Homo sapiens: one gene and its partners. The protein of the gene in region 1 interacts with the protein of each later gene in a biochemical or structural test. Each region holds a gene or a part of one and is shown in the gene's direction. Other genes may lie near its edges.

Evidence for each region.
Region 2: the proteins of RHOA (region 1) and ARHGAP35 form a complex in vitro, tested with the Homo sapiens proteins (3 studies listed by BioGRID).
Region 3: the proteins of RHOA (region 1) and PLEKHG2 form a complex in vitro, tested with the Homo sapiens proteins (one study listed by BioGRID).
Region 4: of the proteins of RHOA (region 1) and ARHGEF1, one has a biochemical effect on the other in vitro, tested with the Homo sapiens proteins (one study listed by BioGRID).
Region 5: of the proteins of RHOA (region 1) and ARHGAP32, one has a biochemical effect on the other in vitro, tested with the Homo sapiens proteins (3 studies listed by BioGRID).
Region 6: the proteins of RHOA (region 1) and DIAPH3 form a complex in vitro, tested with the Homo sapiens proteins (one study listed by BioGRID).
Region 7: the proteins of RHOA (region 1) and ARHGEF3 form a complex in vitro, tested with the Homo sapiens proteins (one study listed by BioGRID).

Annotation. Positions count from the first base shown.
Region 1 is NC_000003.12:49,370,477-49,373,976, reverse strand, and holds part of RHOA (transforming protein RhoA isoform 1 precursor), read left to right. Parts: intron 1-3,500. UniProt on the Homo sapiens protein: Small GTPase which cycles between an active GTP-bound and an inactive GDP-bound state.
Region 2 is NC_000019.10:46,912,997-46,916,496, forward strand, and holds part of ARHGAP35 (rho GTPase-activating protein 35), read left to right. Parts: intron 1-3,500.
Region 3 is NC_000019.10:39,415,669-39,419,168, forward strand, and holds part of PLEKHG2 (pleckstrin homology domain-containing family G member 2), read left to right. Parts: intron 1-679; coding exon 680-746; intron 747-882; coding exon 883-929; intron 930-1,181; coding exon 1,182-1,332; intron 1,333-1,886; coding exon 1,887-2,024; intron 2,025-2,236; coding exon 2,237-2,437; intron 2,438-3,065; coding exon 3,066-3,158; intron 3,159-3,248; coding exon 3,249-3,335; intron 3,336-3,500. UniProt on the Homo sapiens protein: May be a transforming oncogene with exchange activity for CDC42. May be a guanine-nucleotide exchange factor (GEF) for RAC1 and CDC42. Activated by the binding to subunits beta and gamma of the heterotrimeric guanine nucleotide-binding protein (G protein).
Region 4 is NC_000019.10:41,881,926-41,885,983, forward strand, and holds the start of ARHGEF1 (rho guanine nucleotide exchange factor 1), read left to right. Parts: upstream 1-1,258; 5' UTR 1,259-1,364; exon of another isoform or gene 1,365-2,542; coding exon of another isoform or gene 2,543-2,568; intron 2,569-4,058. UniProt on the Homo sapiens protein: Seems to play a role in the regulation of RhoA GTPase by guanine nucleotide-binding alpha-12 (GNA12) and alpha-13 (GNA13) subunits. Acts as a GTPase-activating protein (GAP) for GNA12 and GNA13, and as guanine nucleotide exchange factor (GEF) for RhoA GTPase.
Region 5 is NC_000011.10:128,968,826-128,972,325, reverse strand, and holds part of ARHGAP32 (rho GTPase-activating protein 32), read left to right. Parts: intron 1-1,166; coding exon 1,167-3,419; 3' UTR 3,420-3,500. UniProt on the Homo sapiens protein: GTPase-activating protein (GAP) promoting GTP hydrolysis on RHOA, CDC42 and RAC1 small GTPases. May be involved in the differentiation of neuronal cells during the formation of neurite extensions.
Region 6 is NC_000013.11:60,157,429-60,160,928, reverse strand, and holds part of DIAPH3 (protein diaphanous homolog 3), read left to right. Parts: intron 1-3,500. UniProt on the Homo sapiens protein: Actin nucleation and elongation factor required for the assembly of F-actin structures, such as actin cables and stress fibers. Required for cytokinesis, stress fiber formation and transcriptional activation of the serum response factor.
Region 7 is NC_000003.12:56,746,450-56,749,949, reverse strand, and holds part of ARHGEF3 (rho guanine nucleotide exchange factor 3), read left to right. Parts: intron 1-3,500. UniProt on the Homo sapiens protein: Acts as a guanine nucleotide exchange factor (GEF) for RhoA and RhoB GTPases.

The DNA of each region.
Region 1 (3,500 bases):
GTCCTAAAAGCCCTCTGGCAAGACTGGAACAAAGCTCTTGTGAAATTGGAGGGTTTTTTTGGGTTTTAATTTTGGTTTTGGTTTGTTTTTGTTTTTTTTTTTAATCTTCTGCTTCCTTTTGTTGTCTAAGTAATGCTTTGCTTGGCCTCTCATACTTTTTTTTTTTTCTCTTAAATAAAGAGACAGGGATTGTACTTTGTCTCCCAGGCCTGCAGTGCTGTGACATGATCATGCAGCCTTGAACTCTTGGGCTCAAGTGATCCTTCCACCTCAGCCTCCCAAATAGCTGGCACTGTAGGTATGTGCCACCACACCTGGGTAATTTATGTTTTTAGAGATGAGGTCTTGTGTTGGTCCAGCTGGTTTCAAACAACTGGGCTCAAGTTCTTCCATCTCAGCCCCAAGTGGCTGGGCTTACAGGCGCAAGCCAGCGTGCCCAGCTCTCCTATACATCTTTTGAAGTGGGTCAGCTGAAAGGAAAAAACCCCTAAAACTAGAATGAGGTGCTCTTCTCCAACATTCTCATTTTTCTTGAGCATTCAGTTATATGTCTCATATGCTGCTAACACTTGATATATTAGCTTCCATTCATCCCCTTTCTCCTTTCTTACTTTGTTTTTGTTTGTTTGTCTAGAGACAGAGTCTCCCTCTATCACCCAGGTTGGAGTGCAATGGCATGATCTTGGTTTACAACAACCTCCGCCTCCTGAGTTCAAGCAATTCTCCTATCTCAGCCTCCCGAGGAGCTGGGATTACAGGTGCCTGCCACCAAGCCCAGCTAATCTTTGTATTTTTAGTAGAGACGAGGTTTCGCCATGTTGGCCAGGCTGGTCTCGAACTTTTGACGTCAGGTGATCCGCCCGCCTTGGCCTCCCAAAGTGCTGGGATTACATGCATGAGCCACCGTGCCTGGCCACTTCTACTTGTCCACATTACTTATTTCTTTCTGTCCTAGGGCCACCTAGCCTCCTTTTGTGGCACTGTGTGAGGAATGTGGGTTAGATCAGCTGCTCAGAACTCCAGGGTCCCTCATTGTAGGGCTTCCTGATAGTTGTTTGACCATCAGTAAGCTCCTGACCTTTGAGCCTTCCTCATTTGTAAAACGGTTTTTATAGGTGACATCAAGGTTCTGTGAAGTAACGGAAAATGTTTGGCAGCACCAAAGCGCTTTCTAAGAGATGAATACTGCCATGTTCAAAACCCTCTTTCATAGTTTGTAGTCCTTTTTTTTTTTTTTTTTTTTGAGACAGAGTCTCGCTCTGTCGCCCAGGCTGGAGTGCAGTGGCGTGATCTCTGCTAACTGCAACCTCTGCCTCCTGGGTTCACGCCATTCTCCTGCCTCATCCTCCGGAGTAGCCGGGACTACAGGCGCCCGCCACCACGCCTGGCTAGTTTTTTGTATTTTTAGTAGAGACAGGGTTTCACCGTGTTAGCCAGGATGGTCTGGATCTCCTGACCTCGTGATCTGCCTGCCTCCCAAAGTGCTGGGATTACAGGCGTGAGCCACTGCGCCCGTCCTATAGTTTGTGCTCTTTTTTATTCAAATACAGAGTGAGCCACGATGATTGCTCTTATGCTAATAGGAACTCTAAGATACTTTCTGGCCCAAGTATAGATGGAAAAAATACAACAAATACCAGCCTAACAGAATTTTGGGATGTACCCTGAAGGTGGCAAACCAATACAGAGGGTGTTAATTCAGCCTCAGCCAAGCATGGATGCTTGGACATAGGTGTTTTTGTGGTCCTGATAGGAAAACTGGTTTTATATGGACACAGGGCCCAGTTGTGACAAACTAGGTAGAAATGTGATGACATCTTCAGGATTGGTGTCAAGTTATAGCCCTCTTACCTAACTTAGATTGATGCACCATACATAGAAAGATCCATTGGCTTGGGGAAGCAATGTCAGGTTGGCATTTTCATAGCTTATTTCTCAAAAGCCTAGTAGTGAATGTATATTACTGGTTGTATCCTAACATTTTCTCCAGAGAGTGGCTGTTAATTGCTGCATGTCTGTAAGCATGAACTGGAAGGGTCTTTTCCATCTGTGGCAGTATGTATGTTTTGGAAGCAGCTCTTTGGTTCTCTTGGAAACATTATTTCTGCCTGGGCATCTTGGAACAACCAGAATCTTGCCCATAAGAAATTTAGAGACCTTGACTTAAAACCTTGAGGCATGGTCTGTGAGTATTTTTCTTGTGCTGCAAACCTTGGACATCACTGACCCTCGCAAGATAGGGGGAGGTTCTCACTTGAGGAGAGTCCCCTGGAATAAAAGTGTTTGATTGAAGAGCATATTACAGGCTACCTGCCTGCCTCAGAGCAACTCAAGAGTCCCCAAGATGGGAGAGGGTACTGTGTAGGAATATTCATTTAACAGTATGCAATAGTATAAGGCCAGACGTCGTAGCTCACACCTGTAATCCAGCACTTTGGGAGGCTGAGGCAGGAGGATCACCAGAGGTCAGGAGTTTGAGACCAGCCTGCCCAACATGGCAAAACCCAATCTCTACTAAAAATACAAAAAATTAGCTGGGCGTGGTGGCAGGCACTTGTAATCCCAGCTACTTGGGAGGCTGAGGCAGGAGAATCACTTGAACCTGGGAGGCAGAGGTTGCAGTGAACTGAGACTGCGCCACTGCACTCAAGCCTGGGCGACAAGGGCGAAACTCTGTCTCAAAAAAAAAAAAAAACAGTAGGCAATAGTACAGCCTAGGGAACCATACAAGATTGTAGGTGATCATGGTACCAAGAGTAGGCCTGCTCACAATGAAAAGGCCCCTTTTGATATGAGACAGACTCAACATCTTGGAAGCATTTTATCAAGCGCCAATAGAGGCTGGATATATGACTAAACACCGTGGGGTGGAGGGGGCCGGGAGAGTGGGATTTGCCAGGGAGTAAATGAGCTCCATTATTGTGAGGGCAGACAGATTGTGATAATTGGGCATCAGTATATCTTAGTTACACATGCCAGAATGATGGTTTGCATGACAGAAGTACAGTGGGCCTTGTGGAGGTTATTTGTGATGCATCCTGGGGCAAAAGTTCGGGGGTGGAAGAGCCATCAATTTTAAGGAAGAAATCATTTAGAAACTGAAATTTGGGCTGTGAAGGTGCTAAGAGAAGAAAGATGTGTTCCAAGTATTGGAGGGAGACCTCTTGGGCCTCAAAGGGCCTCTGTACAGAGGATGTTTAACATGGAGTCTGGTGATAAGAATGGGGTAGCAGAGCTGGGTGCAGTGCTGGGCAGTGTTGAATGGGACTTGTATTCAGAGCCCAGGCATCAGTTTACCCTTCTACCACAGGAGGGTGAGGATGTACCCGGATGTGAAAGGAGTACTCTCTCACCTTACGTGATGCATTATTTCAGACATTTCTTGAGTAGTAAAGGCACAGCCAAAAGGGCTTTCCTGTCATCTCAGGCCTTGCCTAACAGCCAGCATGGTGTCTTTTCCTACCTACCAACTCAAAATACAGATTTGTTTCCATGGTTTC
Region 2 (3,500 bases), on another chromosome or scaffold:
GAAAATTGTGATAACAAGTATTTTACTTCCTTTGCTTGTAGTTCTGTATGAAATTATTTCCTTACAGTGTTACTAGTTGGTGGTGTTCTGTATGTGATTATTTGAAACTCAGTGTGTTTTCAGAAGTTGTTGAATATTCTCAGGTGGAGATGGTCATTTTTATTATGGATAATGGTGGAAGATTTTTGTCTTAGGGGGCATTCTAGATTACAGAGCACACAAACATTTCCTACTTCGGGGAGAGAGGGATGAGGTTGCTGTGTTGGAAGAGTGATACACACGCTGTGTTGGAAGAGTGATACACACACTTCCAGGCGTATGCTGATAGAGCTGTTGACAGTATGAACTTTCCCAGTCATAGTAAATCTGGGATCACGGTGGCATTTCTAGGTCCTACAAAAATGTGTGCTATCTTGGGAATGTTACCACTTCTTGCCCTGAGTGTTTCATAGAGGTGTTAAAAAAGAAAACACCCTCCTTCTACCTTCCAGTTGCGGCACTCTGGTGGGGACCTTGTGTCTTGGTTAAACAAATCACAAACAACTCTAGATGCTTGGTGACAGTCTGAAGAAGGCACGTAGATATTTGCATTATGTTTTATTACAGCATGTATTTGTGACTGAGAAACCAAAATACTTCTGAAGTATTTTCCTCTCTGAAGTAGTTGACTCTTGGCATAAAATGGGAAACTTTGAAGTCCTGTGTTTCTGTTTTTCTAATGAAATATCTCTGTACAGCTCAAAGATAAAAGTAATTACCATTTTTAAAGGATCCTTCTTTCCCCTCTGTTTTAACTCTTCCATTTAAAAAGGATTAGCACTGGAAAATTATTAGAATGGACATTCAGATTCTGTTGTGTATCTTAGTTGCCTGCTAAGAACACTGGTTCCCATCACATTTAAACTCTAAAGACATTGTGAAGTCTGGATATGCCCGGTCTCCTACTTTCTCTTTCTTTGTGGCCTTCAGATCATTAAATTTAGTGACTCAGCTAATTTTTTTTACCCACCTCTTAGAACTAAGTTGAATGTATTTGTGACCAAGCACTTAAAGTTATTTCCTCTAAACCAAGTGTTTGAGATGTTTTTAGATTTATAACAGTCTTTGTTTACCGTGTAATTCAGTCCAATTGAGGAACTAGTAAAACTGCATTATCTAGACATCAAAGCTAAGAAGAGTATACTTACACCAAGAAACTTATTAGGTTTCTAACAAGTGGAAAGTTACCAGGTGTCCCAAAATTAACCACTTCCATGCCAGCTGATTTTCACTTTTTGTAGCTATTTTAATGATCAGCAGCATTCTGGGTTTAAAAATAACAGTCGTGGCTGGGCACAGTGGCTCGTGCCTATGATCCCAGCACTTTGGGAGGCTGAGGTGTGAGTGGGAGGATTGCTTGAGGCCAGGAGTTTGAGACCAGCCTGGGCAACATAGCAAGACCCCATTTCTAAATAATAATAATAATAATAAATTAGCCAGGCATGATGGCTTGCACCTGTAGTCCCAGCTACTTGGGATGCTGAAGTGGGAGGATCACTTGAGCCCAGGAGTTGGAGGCTGCAGTGAGCTATGATTACAGCACTGCACTCCAGCATGGGTGACAGAGCAAGACTCCATCTCATAAAATAAAATAATCAGTTCTACATTATTCAGAGTTGAGTGTTGCTTTCTTTAGCATCCTTCAAATAACTGAAAATATGCCATTAAAAAATATAACCAAGGTGTTGAATGGATAATACATTTTAGTTCATTTCAAAATAGAGCCAATATCTTTATTTCTTGAGGTTTGAGAGCAGGCTGGTGTTTTGTTCTGTTTTTCCTTCAGATTTCTGTGAAGGGATAAATATTAGACCCACTTTACAGAGAACAGTTGAGTCACAGACAAGGGATGACTTGCCAATTGCATGCAGAGGTCACTTTAAGTAGGACCAGTGCTACCAAGTTGCATTTCAAGATTGGTAACCTTAAGACCTGACAGACCCTGGGGTCAGGAATTGATAGAGAAGGACTCTGTTAGATGAGGACCCATGACTTCCTCAACCCTTCATCAGCACTCCTGTCTGAGGCTCTGTTCAACCTAAGTTTCTTCATGGATTGAAACAAAATTATATGTGCATATTACAGAGTAATTGATTGTGTACAGATGCTTCCTTTAGGTATTTCAGAGGATGTGTGTAAACATGCTTTAGATATTCATAAGCATCTTATAATTTTGTTTATGTAAGCAATCGCCTAGAAAAGTAGAGGATGCGAAAGGTTTGTTTTTCTTTCCCGTGGATACCTTGCTTGTTCCTGCTGAATTCTAGAACATGGCATCTTTAGGAACATGCCATTATCTGGAGGCAATTGCCTACAGTCATTGAGATTTTTCTTTTTAAAATGTAGTTTTTGCATACTACGTCTAGTCACATTTTGTTTCCATAGAGGGTTTGGCTTTCTGGGATATCAGAAGGAAGCTATGGATGTTTGGAAAAGGTCTGTGACCTTTTGAGGTTATCATCACAGGGGACAATTGCACTCTCCCATTCATTGCTCCCTGGTGTCAGTCAGAATAATGCGTGGTGGTCTGACTTCCAGTGGCATTTCTTATGCAATAGGCTTACAAAAACATAATGAGGTCATGGCAAGCCTAGGTTCCTACAGACATAAATGAGATTCAGAAGAAAATTGCTCTGTTCATTTCAGATTCTCCTCTTTGTGATTGTCTTGAGAGAATGTTCATTTGGCTGCAGGTTCAGTGCTTGCACAGTTATATTGGAGTATCTAAGTAAACTGAAGTGCAGCATAAACTGTCGTAGCTGGAAAGTTGCTAAAGACTGTAAGCCATAACAGTTTGTTTAACTTAAGCTGTTAAAACTTTAGGTTCTTTAAGGTGCCATTTTTTTGGCCACATTCTGTGGTTCCCCATAGCCTTCAGGAAGGAATCCAAACTCTTTTTTTTTTTTTTTTTTTTTTTTAAGATGGAGTCTCGCTCTGTCGCACAGGCTGGAGTGCAGTGGCGTGTCTCGGCTCACTGCAAGCTCCACCTCCCGGGTTCACTCCATTCTCCTGTCTCAGCCTCCTGAGTAGCTGGGACTACAGGTGCCCACCTCCACACCCAGCTAATTTGTTGTACTTTCAGTGGAGACGGGGTTTCACCATGTTAGCCAGGATGGTCTTGATCTCCTGACCTCGTGATGCATCCGCCTCGGCCTCCCAAAGTGTTGGAATTACAGGCGTGAGCCACCGCGCCCAGCGAAGGAATCCAAACTCTTAAAGTGGTTTGATCCAGTCCCTGGTTCCTTGCTAATGCATCTTACCCATTCTTTCCCCACACACACTTTGTTCCAGTTGGTTCTCCCAACTGGCAGTGCTTTTTTTTGCGGAGGGAAGGGTCTGTGCACACTCTGTCCCTCTGTCTTAAATGCACTTCATACTTCAGGTCTCACCTGAGATGGAACTTCCTACAGAAAGGCTTTCCCGAATCTGAAAGGCTGGGCTTGGGGACCTTTTAATATGCT
Region 3 (3,500 bases), on another chromosome or scaffold:
GAGGGAGGGGCATAGCGGATGGGAGGACCCCGAGTGAGGGAGGGGCATAGCGGATGGGAGTCAGAGGACCTGGATGAAGCCCAAACACTGGGACAGGGTCCCGGCATCAGGACGAGTCCTTGGGGCTGTGTCAGGTCTGGGCTCACGATGAATCCAAGAATCATATGGGGCCTGAAGGCCGAGACAGCGTGAGCATGCGAGTGACCCCCTAAGCCTGATTTGCCTGGGACTTTTCCAGTTTTAGCACTGAAAGCCCTCGTCCTAGGAAACTGCTCAGTCCCGGACAAACCAGGATGGTTGGTCACTGTGGTAAGGAGGACTCTGGGGTCCAAGGATCATGACATTTCCAAGTACCTTGACGAGGTCTCGGGATTACAGCAGGAACTTAAGATCATCCTAGCTCTTTGGGTCATGATATAACACCCCTAGGCTCATGCCAGCACTGACACAAGTTCAAGCTGAGGAATGAGAAGCTGTCCAGGGACAAAGTCTAAGCAGGTTACCATGCCCCGTGTAGCCCTCAGAGGACCCTTCCTCCGGACATGACATCCCCTTAGGAGATGCTGGCAGTCAGCAAGCCCCCAGCCCCAGCAGACCATTGGGGCCTCAGCCTCCTGGAGGCCTCCCATGGAGGGGTCGTGAAGGCAGGCGGTTCCTCACCCTCCCCTCTCCCCTGTAGCGAGCTCCTGGAGGACTTGGAGAACAGCAGCAGCGCCGGGGGTATTGCCGAGTGCTTCGTGCAGAGGGTGAGTGGAGGGGTGGGGGGCTCTCGGTCCTGGATGGGGCCTTTGTAGAGGGGGGAGAGCAGGCTTGGGCTAGGCTGGAAGGGGGGTCGTGGGAAGCCAGGACCTGGGGTCTCCCTGACTCCCATGTCACCCGCAGAGCGAGGATTTTGACATCTACACATTGTACTGCATGAACTACCCGAGGTGAGGGGCAGGAGCCCCTGCTGGGCCTCAGGCTGTGCCCACAAGCTGATGTGCCAGTCACCCGTCACCCTCCCTCTACCCCCGACCCATCCAGCACCGACCCCTGCCAGGCTGTGACAGTAACTGACCTCTCCCTCACTGCCCCGCCCCCTGTCAGACCCTGACCCTTCCCAAACCCTGGCCCCTCCCTAACCCCTCTTGACCCCGCCCACTGGAACTGACAATCCCCACTGACCTGTGCTGTGCCCCCAGCTCCCTGGCCCTGCTCCGGGAGCTGTCGTTGTCTCCGCCAGCAGCCCTGTGGCTGCAGGAGCGCCAGGCCCAGCTTCGCCACTCGCTGCCCCTGCAGAGCTTCCTGCTGAAACCTGTCCAGCGCATTCTCAAGTACCATCTGCTGCTGCAGGTCAGCTGGGGCCCCTGGAGCCAGGCTGGGGAGGGGGAGGTCCTGTCCCTTGACCACCTGTTGGTTCATCTGGAGGATGGACCCCCCACGAGTTGGGCAAGGCCTCCCAAAGTGCTGGGATTACAGGCGTGAGCCACCGCGCACAGCCCTAGCTTTTTTTTTTCCCTTTGAGGTGGAGTTTCACTCTTGTCGATGAGGCTGGAGTACAGTGGTGCGATCTTGGCTCACTGCAACCTCCACCTCCTGGGTTCAAGTGATTCTCCTTGCTCAGCCTCCTGAGTAGCTAGGATTACAGGCGCACACCACCATGCCCAGCTAATTTTTGTATTTTTAATAGGGACGGGGTTTCACTACGTTGGCCGGGCTAGTCTCGAACTCCTGGCCTCAGGTGATTTGCCCACCTCAGCCTCCCAAAGTGCTGGGATTACAGACATGAGCCACTGCGCCTGGCCTCTGCCCCTATCTTTATATTTCTCCATCTCCTGTTATTCTCATTCTCTTTCTCCTTCTCTGTTTCTCTCCCCATCCCTGCGTGCCTGGTGGCTGCCTGACAGGAACTAGGGAAGCACTGGGCGGAGGGCCCAGGCACTGGGGGTCGCGAGATGGTGGAGGAAGCTATTGTGTCCATGACAGCGGTTGCCTGGTACATCAACGACATGAAGCGCAAGCAGGAGCATGCAGCGCGCCTCCAGGTGGCCCCAGGGTGGGCTGGGGCTTGCTGGATGAGGGAGTGAGCGAGGGGGCCTTGGGGCGGGTGGGGGGAAATCAGTGCCTCAGAGGTAGCCTTGGAGGGTTGGCTGGGACAGCATGGCCCTGTTGCTAACCCCCTGTTTTGGTGTGTATGTGTGTGCCACCTACCCATGCTTGTCTCTGCGCCCCGGCGCACCTGGCGGGGTCCCGGCAGGAAGTGCAGCGGCGGCTGGGTGGCTGGACCGGACCAGAGCTCAGTGCTTTTGGGGAACTGGTGTTGGAGGGCGCGTTCCGAGGAGGCGGAGGGGGTGGCCCCCGGCTACGAGGGGGTGAGCGGCTGCTCTTCCTGTTCTCTCGGATGCTGCTGGTGGCCAAGCGCAGGGGGCTGGAGTACACCTACAAAGGCCACATCTTCGTGAGTTTGGGGATGGGGTGGGGCTAGAATACTACCTACAAAGTATATCCCATATACCTGTATCTGTGTGCCCGGCAGTGTGGGCCAGGGGACCCTGCCACATTTTCTTGAGTTAGAGAATGGAAGCCAAGGGAAGCTTTCTTTCTAGTGTATAGAATGAGAGCTGCCCCACTTAAGAAAAAAAAGGAGAAGGCTGGGCGTGGTGGCTCATTCCTGTAATCCGAGCACTTTGGGAGGTCAAGGCGGGCGGATCACTTGAGGTCAGGAGTTCGAGACCAGCCTAGCCAACGTGGTGAAACCCCGTCTCTACTAAAAATACAAAAATTAGCTGGACGTGGTGGCAAGTGCCTGTAATCCCAGCTACTGGGGAGGCTGAGGCAGGAGAATTACTTGAACCCAGGAGGCGGAGGTTGCAATAAGCCAAGATCATGCCACTGCACTCCAGCCTGGGTGACAGAGCAAGACTCTGTCTCAAAAAAAAAAAAGGGAGAGGAAACCCACCATACAGCCTTATGGGATGCATCTTCCTAGGGAGGAGGACCCAGATACACCTCCAAGGGTGTCTCCGTACAAGGGGCATCACTGAGCCCAAGGACTCTGAGCTTGCTACCCCTCTCTTTCCTTCCAGTGCTGCAACCTGAGCGTGAGCGAGAGTCCCCGAGACCCTCTAGGGTTCAAGGTGTCTGATCTGACCATTCCCAAGCACAGACACCTGCTCCAGGTGAGCATGTAGTGGGATCAGGCTGGCAGGGATCCCCCAGCCTCGAGACCTCACACCTGGCCCCCTGACTCTACTCCAACCCACTCCTAGGCCAAGAACCAAGAAGAGAAGAGGCTGTGGATTCACTGTCTCCAGCGCCTCTTCTTTGAGAACCACCCTGCCTCCATCCCTGCCAAGGTACAGCTCCTGCCGCAGCCGGGGGCCCTCTGAGTGCTGGAGACACCCTCCCCCAATAGTACTAAGAGACGCCCCTGCCCAATGCCAGAGCAGTCTGTTATAATGTGATTGCTAAAAGTGCAGAATTCCGCTACTTGGGTTTGAATCTTAGCTCTACCATGTCCC
Region 4 (4,058 bases), on another chromosome or scaffold:
CACCACGCCCGGCCGCTTTTTTTTTTTTTTTTTTTTTTTTTGAGGCAGAGTCTGACTCTGTCGCCCAGGCTGGAGTGCAGTGGCGCAATCTCAGCCCACTTCAACCTCCACCTCAAGCGATTCTTGTACCTCAGGCTCCCGAGTAGCTGGGATGACAGGCATGTGCTACCACACCCAGCTAATTTTTGTTTTAGTAGAGACAGGGTTTCGCCATGTTGGCCGGGCTGGTCTCGAACTCCTGACCTCAAGTGATCCACCATGCTTCGGCCTCCCAAAGTGCTGGGATTACAGGCATGAGCCACTTTATGCGTATTTAAGCCTTGGAAACACAGGGACTATCTTGTGGATTGGGGCTAGTACAGAATTCAGACTGCAGCCTTTTCCCGATGCGTTGACTTACAGAAGGGGCATTTTGGAGGGTCTGTGGTCCTAACCTGGGGATAGCAGGGAGATCCCGGGGCAATGACAGAGAGGCACAGAGACACGGATTTCCTGAGAAAGGGAGAGGAGAGAGGCTGAGACCCAGGGATCATGAAGGGGACGAGCAAGGGAAGGAAGAGATGATGAGACCCTGGGAATCCGGGAGAGAGACAGGGACGTGGAGAGAAAGGGACAGAGAGAGAGCGAGAAGGAAAGGAAGAGACAGAAGGGAGAAGGGGCAACCGAAAATGGGCACGAAGAGGCCCAGGCACAGCAACAGCTGGGGAAATGACAGAGACTGAGACGGAGATGCAGAAAGATACAGAGAGAGCTGGAGAGGGTAGAGAAGGGCTTTCGGGGAGAAAGTGATGGAGGGACAGAGAGGAGAGGTGGAGGCCAAGGAGGGAAAGACCCCAGTAGAGAAAGACAGAGGGACAGAGAAGGGGATGCAGACGCAGGCGGGAGCACACCCACAGAGGCGAAGGAAGGGCGCAAGACCATGAGAACCACAGACGCGGAAAGCCGGGGAGGTCGTGGCTCGGTCTAGGGCGCACGGGGAGCAGGGCTTGCCCCCCAGCACCTCCGGGGAGGTGACCCCAGCCGGGAGATGCGAGTCCCGCGGAGCCCGCGCCCGGCGGACGGACCGATGGACAAAGCCGGGGAGAGCTCGGGCGCGGCCGGGGCGGGGGCCGGTGCCCGCAGGGACCCGGGCGCAGCGGGGAAAGGAGGGGCGGGCAAGCGGCGAGAAGGGGAAGGAAGCGGAGGTGCCGGGCGGGCGCGGGGCGCGGGCAGGAAGCGGGGAGGGGCGGCGGGGCGGGGGCCTCCGGAAAAACGCCCCGACTTCCTGCCCCGCCAGAGCCAGGAAGCGGGAGCCGGGACCCAGGGCCCGGGATCGCCGAGCCCGACCTCGGGCGCCCCGCCGGTCACCTCCGCGCGGACACCAGGTACTCGGTCCCCGGCCCCGCCCGGCCTCCTCCCCTCGGCTGTTGGGGGAAGTGGGGAGGAGGAGGGAGGGGCTGGGGCGCTGCCGGCAGCGGAGGGGCCCCCTTCGGACCCCACGGAACCAGCGGCCGCCCCTCCTTGGGCCTCAGTTTTCCCATCTGTCAAAGGGAGCAAAGAGGGGAGAACTCACACTTGACGAGTGCCCCATAGGTGGGGACGAACGGTGCGAGGCCGGGGCCAAGGCCTCCCACCTGCTCAGTGGAGAACGGACGATCACTACCATTGTACGGGTGGGGAAACCGAGGCCCGGGGAGCCAAACCGACTCGTCCCAGGGAACGCACATCGTGAGAAAGTGTGGAGTTGGGATTTGAACTCGCACGTGCTTTCCGCAAAGCGCCATCCTCCAACCCCCGCATGCTTTAGGGCCACCTAAAAATGAAAAACAACAATAACAACAACGACGAGGGTCGCTGTGAAGCTGAAAGTTGCAGAGTGCATTTGAAAGAGTTTTCGGAAAGCTCTTTTCTAGGTCATTAATTATACCGTGAGAGACAGGTGTAGGGAGAGAGCTGGAGGCCTTCTCCCATTGTACGGATGGGAAGACTGAGGTCTACAGAGAAGTCATTACTTTTTGCAGATTACACTGCATGTCAGAGGGAAAGTTGTGCTGGAACTCAAGACTATTGCTTTTCCGGTTCCAAAGGAAGGGGCTGGGGGTGGGAGACGGAGGGGATTGATGTACGAGGATTGGAAATTCAGCGGGTCCCCTAAGTGGGGAGACTAATAGGACGGGGAGCCCCAGTCCGCCGTCCGAGTGCTCAGCGCTGGGGTGACTAGGAGATCTCCGATCGAACTCGGGAGGAGTTGGACCCATCTGCACCTCCGGGCGCGGGGCGGGGCCCGGGGAGTGACGGGGGCAGTCGAGATACGGAAACGCTGGCCCTCCAAGACAGGCCAGAGCGGCCCTATCTGGCCTGCGTGGCGCAGTACAGCGCTAGAGCGGCCGGCGGGAGGAGTAGAGTCGTCGGGGCCGGAGCCCGGCAGGAGCCGGGCTAGAGCGGCTGGCAGGAGGAGTGGAGCTGGGCGCAAAGGTGGACTCAGGGCGGCTAGAGCGACGCGGCGGCAGGGGTGGGGAGAGTGCGGAGCCCGAGCGCGGAGGCTTCGGTTCCGGTGGCGGCGATGGCTTCTCTTTCCACCTGGAGCAGGTGAGGGACGCGGTCCCCAGCGGGTGTCAGACCCTGACTCTGCACGTCCTCCCCGGCATCCCTGGCCGTGCACACTGCCACGTCCCCCGTAGGATTTAGGGCCCGCGTAAGACCCGCCACGTCCATGTAAGATTTGGGTCTCGTGTAGACCCGCCTCATTCCGTATAAAGTCTTACAGACCCTCCAGGTTCCTGCCAGCCCCCCATGGAGAACTGGCTTCTTATAGACGTGGGGTCCTCATAGACCAGTGGCATCCCCTAGAATCCGGGGCTCTATAGACCATGGGTCTCGGGACCCACCACGCACCCCTATGGAATTCTGAGTCCCTTTTAAGTCTCCAGAGGTTCCACAGACTGGCAGCTGTCCCTATAGAATCATGATCCTGTATGATCCCTGGATCCTTTAGACCCACTGTGTGTCAAATAGAATCTGGGGAGTTACACATTCCAACGACTCTTTTAGGTTCTTTAAGGCTCCAGAAGTTCTTGGAGACCCTGAGTCACCTGCTCAACACATTATAGACCCTGAGACCTCCATAGAACTCAACACCCATGTGGCCCCCCAACCCATGGACCTTCTAAACCAGCCCTAACCCCCCAGCGCCCCATGCACGCAGTGTTCCCTCTGCTGGACCCCCCAGGCCTTGTCAGTTGCCTATAGATCCATCTATTCTCTGACAGCTTCACCTATAATTCTCCAGCCTTTGTGGGACTCCCCCAAACCCCTCCTCCTAAACAGGCGACACTCCTCGCCTCCATCATCTCCAACCCCCAAGCCTCTGTGGAGCAGCCGTATCCAACTTGCACTCCTGCCTAGGCCATAGTGACCACATACCCGTGACTTTTCCAGGCATCCATAAGAAGACATGATGTGTCTCAGAGCTTTGGTTCAGATTTTAGTTTCTGAAGGGTAGGGTGGGGGCTCCCCATGCTCTGAAGCAATGCTCTCTGTTTTATTTTGTTTTATTTATTTATTTATTTATTTTTGAGACGAAGTCTCACTTCTGTTACCAGGCTGGAGTGCAGTGGCGCGATCTCAGCTCACTGCAACCTCCGCCTCCCGGATTCAAGCGATTCTCCTGCCTCAGCCTCCCGAGTAGCTGGGACTACAGGCTCGTGCCACCACGCCCAGCTAATTTTGGTATTTTTAGTAGAGACAGGGTTTCACTATGTTGGCCAGGATGGTGTCGATCTCTTGACTTCGTGATCCGCCCGCCTTGGTCTCCCAAAGTGCTGGGATTACAGGCGAGAGCCACCGTGCCTAGCCTATTTTATTTTAAGACAAGGTCTCACTCTGTCGCCCAGGCTGGAGGGCAGTGGCACAATTTTGGCTCACTGCAACCTCTGCCTCCTGGGCTCAGGCGATCCTCTCATCTTAGCCTCCCAAGTAGCTATGACTACAGGCATGAACCACCACACCTGGCTATCTTTTGTAGAGATGGGGGTTTCACCATGTTAGCCAGGCTGGTCTCGAACTCCTGAGCTCAAGTG
Region 5 (3,500 bases), on another chromosome or scaffold:
ATGAGATAGTTCCCATTTGAGGTTGGAGTCTGCCATTACCTTGATGCTGGCTTTTCCCCAGGAAAGGAGTAGCTCCTAGATGACTATAGCTTAACTGTACCTGCTCCCTTTTCTTCCTAAAGTGTCTCGGTAGTTTATTCCAGTAACACAAAGAGATCAGGATCAAATGAGACAAAGTGGGCTTTACGGTTGTGGGTTGCTTTTTCTTATTTTTTTCCAACTCCATCACTGACTCATTGTGACTTTGGGCAAGTCATTTACCTACCCTCTGCCAATTATTCACAGTTACACAATGAAAATACTTCATTCTCAAAACATTCGTAAGACTGTCTGCCTTGCAGACTTTTTGGAAGTATAAGAGATTATAGTGCCTTGGGATTTTTTGTTACTTTCCTAGCATTCACCAGCAGTTTGTCCCATAGTCAGGTGCCTGTTTCAATGAGAGAATGTAGTATGCAGAATGCTAAGGTTTCTTCCTGAATTTCCTCATATTTTAAGAAAGTGCCACAGGTTGTTTTTCTTCTATATGGTCACCTTGAACTATTAATAGGACTTAAGATTTTAGACCTTAGTGGAGGATGCTGTGTTTACTGCTTCTCAAGGATAGCATGTTTTCAGTATGAGGATTATCTTTGGCCAGACTAAGGTGGAATCAAAGGTAGGAGAGAGGCAGTAGCTTCTGATTTGAATATTGCCTTTCCCTATGTTTGAAGCCCTAAAACTGCTAACTGTGTACAACTGTGAATTTCAAAAGTCTCCCCAGATGATAGAATTAACTCTTAATTTAACAAGATGTCCTTTGTGTTGAGACTGAGCTAGACTAATAGACCGGGTATGTATTTTTAAGCTCTACAGCATTACTTGACTAAACCTCTCTTTTGGTTTGTATATTAAAATTATGCCATAGGCAACCTCATCTCGCATTTAAAACCTCTCATAAATTAGAAAACTTTGAATGGTTCTCCAAAGATAATACTGGGTGTTGTACAAAATAGCAGCACAAGCCTTCTTTTCCTAGAAATGGGTACAGATTCATTGCAACCACATGGCTTGGGAAAGTTCAAGCTGCTACCCAACCAGCCTTAATTTGTGAGTTACAAATTTAATAGTACTTGATTCATAGAGGGAACAAAAAATAGACCCATAGTATTATCATCTTTCAATAGGTTCAAGGAGTAGTTCCAGTTCCAGAGAGGCCACCTGAACCTCGAGCCATGGATGACCCTGCGTCTGCCTTCATCAGTGACAGTGGTGCTGCTGCTGCTCAGTGTCCCATGGCTACAGCTGTCCAGCCAGGCCTGCCTGAGAAAGTGCGGGACGGTGCCCGGGTCCCGCTGCTGCACCTGCGCGCCGAGTCTGTCCCTGCGCATCCCTGTGGCTTTCCTGCACCACTGCCCCCCACCAGGATGATGGAGAGTAAGATGATTGCTGCCATACACTCCAGCAGTGCAGATGCCACCAGCAGTTCAAATTATCATTCCTTTGTCACTGCTTCATCCACCTCTGTGGACGATGCATTGCCTTTACCACTTCCTGTCCCACAACCTAAGCATGCTTCTCAGAAAACAGTTTACTCCTCCTTTGCTAGGCCCGATGTCACCACTGAACCCTTTGGTCCAGATAACTGTTTGCATTTCAATATGACTCCAAACTGCCAGTACCGTCCCCAGAGTGTACCTCCCCATCACAATAAATTGGAGCAGCACCAAGTGTATGGTGCCAGGTCAGAGCCACCAGCCTCCATGGGTCTTCGTTATAACACATATGTGGCCCCAGGAAGAAACGCATCTGGACACCACTCCAAGCCATGCAGCCGGGTCGAGTATGTGTCTTCTTTGAGCTCCTCTGTCAGGAATACCTGTTACCCCGAAGACATTCCACCGTACCCTACCATCCGGAGAGTGCAGTCTCTCCATGCTCCGCCGTCTTCCATGATTCGCTCTGTTCCCATTTCACGGACAGAAGTTCCCCCAGATGATGAGCCAGCCTACTGCCCAAGACCTCTGTACCAATATAAGCCATATCAGTCCTCCCAGGCCCGCTCAGATTATCATGTCACTCAGCTTCAGCCTTACTTTGAGAATGGCCGGGTCCACTACAGGTATAGCCCATATTCCAGTTCTTCTAGTTCCTATTACAGTCCAGATGGGGCCCTGTGTGATGTGGATGCCTATGGCACAGTCCAGTTGAGACCCCTTCACCGCCTTCCCAATCGAGACTTTGCTTTCTACAATCCTAGGCTGCAAGGAAAGAGCTTGTACAGTTATGCTGGTTTGGCTCCACGTCCCCGGGCCAACGTGACTGGCTATTTCTCTCCCAACGACCATAATGTAGTCAGCATGCCTCCGGCTGCTGATGTGAAGCACACCTACACCTCATGGGATCTTGAGGACATGGAAAAATACCGCATGCAGTCCATCCGGAGAGAGAGCCGTGCTCGGCAGAAGGTGAAAGGGCCTGTCATGTCCCAATATGATAACATGACCCCGGCGGTGCAGGACGACTTGGGTGGGATCTATGTCATCCATCTGCGTAGTAAATCAGATCCTGGGAAAACTGGACTTCTCTCAGTGGCAGAAGGAAAGGAGAGCCGCCATGCAGCCAAGGCCATCAGTCCCGAGGGAGAGGACCGCTTCTATAGGAGGCATCCCGAGGCAGAGATGGACAGAGCCCACCATCACGGAGGCCATGGTAGCACGCAGCCGGAGAAGCCATCCCTGCCTCAGAAGCAGAGCAGCCTGAGGAGCAGGAAGCTTCCTGACATGGGCTGCAGTCTTCCTGAGCACAGGGCACACCAAGAAGCAAGCCATAGGCAGTTCTGTGAGTCAAAGAATGGGCCCCCTTATCCCCAGGGAGCTGGCCAGTTAGATTATGGGTCCAAAGGGATTCCAGACACTTCTGAGCCAGTCAGCTACCACAACTCTGGAGTAAAATATGCTGCATCCGGGCAAGAATCTTTAAGACTGAACCACAAAGAGGTAAGGCTCTCCAAAGAGATGGAGCGACCCTGGGTTAGGCAGCCTTCTGCCCCAGAGAAACACTCCAGAGACTGCTACAAGGAGGAAGAACACCTCACTCAGTCAATCGTCCCACCCCCTAAACCAGAGAGGAGTCATAGCCTCAAACTCCATCATACCCAGAACGTGGAGAGGGACCCCAGTGTGCTGTACCAGTACCAACCACACGGCAAGCGCCAGAGCAGTGTGACTGTTGTGTCCCAGTATGATAACCTGGAAGATTACCACTCCCTGCCTCAGCACCAGCGAGGAGTCTTTGGAGGGGGCGGCATGGGGACGTATGTGCCCCCTGGCTTTCCCCATCCACAGAGCAGGACCTATGCTACAGCGTTGGGTCAAGGGGCCTTCCTGCCCGCAGAGTTGTCCTTGCAGCATCCTGAAACACAGATCCATGCAGAATGAGCCCTGCGAGCAATAGAGTTGAAGCAGCCTCTGCTGGACAGTGGACTGTTCTATTTTTTTCAATAACCAAAAAGATTAAAC
Region 6 (3,500 bases), on another chromosome or scaffold:
CACTTGTGAGTTGGGTAAAAGAGTTTGTAGCTTAGATATCTCTTCCCATAGATAAGTATAAATAGTAGAAATTAGTCTATTGTAATTGTATGATACTTTGGCTGTGCTACGAATCAATTGACTTTGGGATGCTTGTGAATTAACCAACTTGGTCTCATTTGAAAATATCTTAAGCCGTGAGCATTGAGATGGTAGGGATAGCTACTGGGGCATAGAAGAGAGATGGAGGAGGCTGAGAGGACAGGGCAAGTATCTGGGTGGAGACTTTGTGAAGGCAGATAAAATTCCGTAGGAATTAAACTTGGAACCTGCCCTAGGCCACACTCAATACCTGGACCTGAGTCCTATATCCTTTGTAGAACAGAACAGTTGTCCTACAGATTGTGGAAAGCCTTTCAGTAATACCTGTTTCTCATTACTCTTGGCAACACACAGGTAGTGGTGGCAGAGCAGGACATGTGGCTTCTAGAAGTGTCCATCTCTAGGATGTAGGTCAGTCCATTCAAAGGGAGCCTGTAAATTGGTGGTCCAAGTTGATGAAGGAGTTCTTTTTAATTAGGAGAGTCCTCTAAAAGTTCTCACAGACTTCAGTGTAAATCGTCTAATCGTTTCCATCAAATAGATTGTTAATTATTGATTGATTATGTCATTGTAGTACCTTCAGTGTTGGTTTTGAGATTTTTCTTTTCTTTTTTTTCTTTTTTTGAGACGGAGTCTTGCTCTGTCGCCCAGGCTGGAGTGCAGAGGCGTGATCTCGGCTCACTGCAAGCTCCGCCTCTCGGGTTCATGCCATTCTCCTGCCTCAGCCTCCCGAGTAGTTGGGACTACAGGTGCCCACCGCAACGCCCGGCTAATTTTTTGTATTTTTAGTGGAGACGGGGTTAACCGTGTTAACCAGGATGGTCTCGAACTCCTGACCTCGTGATCCGCCCACCTCGGCCTCCCAAAGTGCTGGGATTACAGGCGTGAGCCACCGCGCCTGGCCGGTTTTGAGATTTTTTCACCTTGTCCTTTAATTTCTGTATATTTACCATGTTTGGGCATTGATGGTAATACTAGTTAACCTTTCTGAGTGAGCCAAGCACTGTTCTAGGTGCGTTGTAATTATCAACTCCTTTAATTCTTAGAACAACCTTGTGAGGTAGGTAGTATTATTAATCTTGTTTGCCATAGGAGGAAACCAAGGTACACAGAGATTAAGCTGCCTAAAATCACACAGCTGCCAGTTCATGAGGCTGAGATTTGAATCTAGGCAAGCTGGCTTCAGAGTATACATTCTTTCTTTCTTTCTTTTTTTTTTTTTGTGAGACAAAGTCTCATTCTGTTGCCCAGACAGGAGTGCAGTGGCACAATCTTGGCTCACTGCAACCTCTACCTCCTGGGCTCAAGCAGTTCTCCTGCCTCAGCCTTCTAGTAACTGGGATTACAGGCACGTGTCACTACGCCCGGCTAATTTTGTATTTTTAGTAGAGATGAGGCTTCACCATGTTGGCCAGGCAGGTCTTGAACTCCTGACCTCAAGTGATCCACCCGCTTCGGCCTCCCAAAGTGCTGGGATTACAGGCGTGAGCCATCGCACCTGGCCTAGAATACACATTCTTAATCACTGTCCTGAATTCTCTCCCATAGCTGTTGGGAACTTTAATCTTTACTGCTTCTTTTCTCATCCAGGAACCATTAGCAATAATTAGTGATGCCTTTAATTAATATATAATATGAATATAGAATTGATTTTCTGATTATAGGCAGGCTGCGAGGTGAGAAGATATACAAGGTTGGAGAATTTTTGTTGATTGTACACGTAGTAGGAATTTGAGTACAGATGAAATCCCAGTAAGCTTAATGAGATTAGTGCATGTTTGCCAATTACTTTGGGTTATTTGGAAGCAGGTGTAGTAGGCCGAACAATGATCTTCTGAAAGGTAGACACTCCTTAATCCCTGGAACCTGTGAATGTTACCTTATATGGCAAAAAATGACTTTACAGGTTATTTGGTTTTTTTTTTTTTTTTTTTTTTTTTTAAGAGGGGCCAGGCAGGAGCAACAATTAAACCCAATGTATGACTGTGCTGTGGTGTAACTTCTGACAGCAGGATGTCTGAAAGAGATACTGCTCTTTGCTCTTCCAGCCCCTGAGAGACAGGGTATCTCATAGCCTCCAACCTCCTGCTGGGAGGATGAGGAACCATCCTTCAGTGCTTGCCTGCCTGAGTTTGGGCTGCCACTCTAGAACTCCCTGCTCAGCTTCCCAGCCAGTCCAGATTGTGGAATGTGGCTGCTTCTCCCCTTTTAGCTGGGGCAACCACAGGTGGTTCAAGCAACCTCTGCCTGGGCCTGTTGAACTCCACCAGGAGGAGGCAGCCCCAAAGTTCCACACATCTGGACATCTGGGGCCTTGGACAGTGATATGGTCAGCACATGGAGATTGAATCTATGTCTGAGGTGGATACACATTAACTAAGCTCACAAGCTTAATGAATAAGCTGTAACCCAACTCATTAATGTATACCAGCCAGTGTGTTGCAGCCAAATCCTTCCAGGCATGCAGGCCCCAGAACAAAGAGGATTAACAAAGAGCAGATGAAAACAATTCTAGCCAGTAAGCTAAAGGAGAAATCTGCTGGGGAATTCTGAGAAAGATGTCTTTGCTCTGTAAAAAGGAACTAACAAAAACTTTGCATCCAGTATTGGCTGAGATCTCATTGGACCACAGACCTCTCACATGACAAAATTATAAAAAGCAACTATTAAAACACTGGAGAGTGATCAAAAGACATGGCTATTGGAGACAATACTTGGAAGAAGGGACTAGCACTGGATAAGTTTGTCATTTTTTGTAGCTTTTTGCATAAGGGAAGCCCCTAATCAGGGTCATGTGGGGTGGTTAAAACTAGAATATAAGCCCACAGTTGTACTGGCATAAAAAACCAGAGGGCAGAGTTCTGGTGACCATATAGCTGATAAATGAGGAGAAAATCCTGGAGAGGAGAAGGAGCCACAAATGGGTAGCCCCAAATTCTGTGTGTAGAGTCCTCAAATTTCTGAACCCTACATGTATGGGACAGACTCCAAGCAGCACAGGTAGGGCTAACATATCTGAACTAAGATTTCAGGTCCCATCCAGCGGATGGGACAGTATGTGCAGTTTGAGAGTTCAGCCAAGTTAACTGCCTGCTAAAACAAACACAAAAAGCAATACTTCTCAGAAGAATAGAAGGAATTCAGAGTCCCTACACCATACATTCACAATGTTCAGGATACAGTGCAAAGGTATTTGACATTAGGAAAAAACAGGAAAATGTGACCCATACAAACAAGAAAAAGGAATCAATGGAGACCAGTCTCAAGATAACTCAGTTGTAAGCATTAATAGACAAGGATTTTAAAGCAGTTGTATAACCATATTTAAGAATATAAATGAAATATGCTCACAATGAATGAAATGATAGGAAACCTCTGTAGAGAAACAGAAACTATAAAAAGACCACAGTGGAAATTCT
Region 7 (3,500 bases), 7.4 Mb from region 1:
CTTTCAGTTAACATGCCTTGATAACACATAGATGTGCAGAAAGTTTTAACATTGATCTTTTAACTTACGTTTCTCAATGACTGCCTTGATCAAGATACTTGATGAGAGTTTCATGACTTAAATAGCTTTAGTTCAGGAGTCAATTTTAGCACCAAGGCTGAAATATCCCAAAGGTATCCGAAAGGCAAGTAATGTTCTAAGATGAATAATTTAGAAAATATGCCTTAATATTTCAAGAGAGATCATTCATCTTATATTTTTGACTTTCATTTTATTATGAGCCATCGTAGATGTTTTAACTTCTTTAGCCCACAAAGAAATTTCTCCAAAGAGAGCCAGCCAACCGGAGACAGACAGAGACAAAGAAGGTATAATGAGTAGAGAGTGCCTCAGTGTCTCTTAAACTTCCTGAGTCTGTGGACTGCTTTGATATGGGGGTAAATGGAGCAGTTAGGCCACACTCCAGAATTTGTAGGATAACTCCTCTGCTTTTGATGAGACAGCAGTACAGGACTACATGGTTTCCTTAAGCATCATATGCAAATTGTCAGTTTATGCCAGAAGCAAAATTGTAGGAATTTGCCTTGTTAGTAACTTTTTGCTGAAATAAACATTTGTCACGTTTATTAGAAAATTGGTTTGATCTGGGAGCAGCTTTGCAGTCATTTTCTGTACATACCCAAAGGAAGTGTGACCATGCTGGCCCATTGCTATCTGGATGCTTCAGACATCAAATGAGGACTTGGATCTTGAAGAGCAGCCTAAAATTAAACAACTGGCCCGTTGTTGCCAGACTTCGTGAGAAATGGCCCTTATTTATCAGGCCTGACAAGCTGTTAAATGTTTTTCCTCTTTTAACTGCAGATGTGTCCGTCTGAGTGGGAACAGTAAACCTAGGGGTACATATGTTTGAGTTCTTGTATTTTTAACAGAACAAAATAAACATCTTAGTGGACTTTGGATGAGAAGAGTCCCATTCGACCCATGAAAAATTGATTTATTTTCTCCGCAAAGGAAAAAAGGGGGGTGGGGGGGAACCCTTTTAAACAAGTGAGCCTTCCAAGTGGGACAGCCCTGGCCAGTCCTTTTGACCTTAGAATGAATCAATTACTTTTACTTTGAAGACCTTAAACAGAGTGGTTGCTTTTTTTCAGGGAACTACCCCGGTTACTGAGAATCAGTGTCCCCGCTCCCTAATGGGTCAGCCTGTTTGAGTAAGCCTTCCCTAGCATAAAGAAACAACTTCCCAAGTGACTTATCTCTATGCCAACGTTTTTTCAATGATGAAATACTTTATAAGCTCTCCAAGGCAGAAAGTTCTCATGTTAATTTGTTGTCTCACTAAATTTTAATTCCCAGGAAAGAGCCAGAGTACATGGAAGCAAAAAAAAAAAAAAAAATAGATTTTTTCACAATATTAGGGGGATAAAAGAACTTCTTTAAAAAGTGAGTTTCCCTTATAAATTCTTGATAGTCTATTTAATAAAGAGATGGTGAATAGTTCAGAACTCTGAGGGTAAAGGGGAAGCAAGAACAAGCTTCAGACTCTCGTTTTGTCTCCAGCTGAGCAAGTAGCTTTGGTTCTCTAAACGACAGTTTCTTCAATAAAAATATTCTAGGGCCCAAGCACAGTGGCTCACGTCTGTAATCCCAGCACTTTGGGAGCCTGAGGCGGGTGGATCTCTTGAGCCCAGGAGTTGGAGACCAGCCTGGGCAACATGGCGAAACCCTGTCTCTACAAAAAAAATATTAGCTGGCATGGTGGTGCATGCCTGTAGCCCTAGCTATTTGAGAGGCTGAGGAGGGAGAATTGTTTGAGCCTGGGAAGAAGAGGCTGCAGTAAGCCATGATCATGCCACTGCTCTCCACCTGAGCAACAAAGGGAGACCCTATCTCGAAAACAAAGAACTTCTTGGGACAAGTAATAATAGCTAGTACTTACTGATTCTATATCAGAAGCCAAGCTCCATGCTACACATTTTGTATGCTTTACCTCATTAAGGGAGAGGGGGACATTAGTATATACATTTTGTAGGTGGAGACACTGAGGCTTGGAAGAGTCACTGACAGCTGTGTGAGTTAGGCTTTGAACCTGATTCTCCCTATTACTGAGTCTGTCCTTTTTTCCGAGACAGTCTCTCTCTGTCGCCAAGGCTGGAGTGCAGTGATGTGATCTCAGTTCATTGCAACCTTTGGCTTCTGGGTTCAAGCGATTCTTGTGACTCAGCCTCCCAAGAAGCTGGGATTACAGGCATGCACCACTATGCCCGGCTAATTTTTATATATTTTAGTAAAGACGGGATTTTGCCACGTTGCCCAGGCTGGGCTCAAACTCCTGACCTCAAGTGCCTCCCAAAGTAATATGATTACAGGCGTGAACCACCGCACCCGGCCTAGTCTCTTTAACTGCATTTTCACCTCTCATTCTGAATAAGGGAGTGTCTGTATTTGAGAACCAGATCTTGTACATTATTCACCCTGTGTAGTTAAAGATCACTTGGGGCCTCTCCTAGCCGGTGACTGAACCAGATAGCCTTTCAGGTCATGCCCAGGAAATGAGCACCCTGTCAGGTGAGAGCACAGGACCAGAGCCCCATTTGGTTGCCATGGTAGCAGGGCAGCAGGATCACAGGGAGCAGTGGCCCATTGGACAGTGAGCAGCAGTGTGGTCGAGGTTCCTCACTAGTTTACATCCAATGGTTACTGCTGATTTGTTTCTTCCTAATGAAAACATTGGGCATTTCCAGATCTTTTTAAAAGGTGAGGAAGTGGAAATTAAATGAAGAGGGCCTGAGGCCCTTTTTAATTAACTCTGAAAGTCTAAATTACAAGCCACAGTACCACGTTTGGGTTCTCTCTCTCTCTCTCTCTCTCTCTCTCTCTCTGTGTGTGTGTGCGCGCATGTATAAGTACCAATTATCATTACTTTCAAATAATAATAGCTAGTACTTACACAAATATAAGGTTGAGGGAAAAAATGTCTGCAACTCTTTAACACAAGTAGAGATTTTTAATAACATGTAAGGAAGGTAGACATTTCAAAGGAATGTTAAGCTCAATAGTAAGCTTGTAAAATATTACTTTCCTGGTATCCTTTTTATGGTTTCAGTCACTGAGGAAATAATTTCAATAAGAGGTGTAAAAGCTGCAGCAGAGTATTTAAAGTTTCAGATGCTGCCATACTTTATTTATTTTTATGTATTTATTTATTTTTTTTTTTGAGACAGAGTCTCACTCTGTTGCCAAGGCTGGAGAGCAGTGGCATGATCTCGGCTCACTGCAACCTCTGCCTCCCGGGTTCAAGAGAGTCTCCTGCCTCAGCCTCCTGAGTAGCTGGGATTACAGGTGTGTGCCACCATGCCTGGCTAATTTTTGTATTTTTAGTAGAGATGGGGTTTCACCATGCTGGCCAGGCTGGTCTTAAACTCCTGACCTCGTGATCCGCCTGCCCCGGCTTCCCAATGTGCTGGGATTACAGGCACGAGCCACTGCGCCTGGCC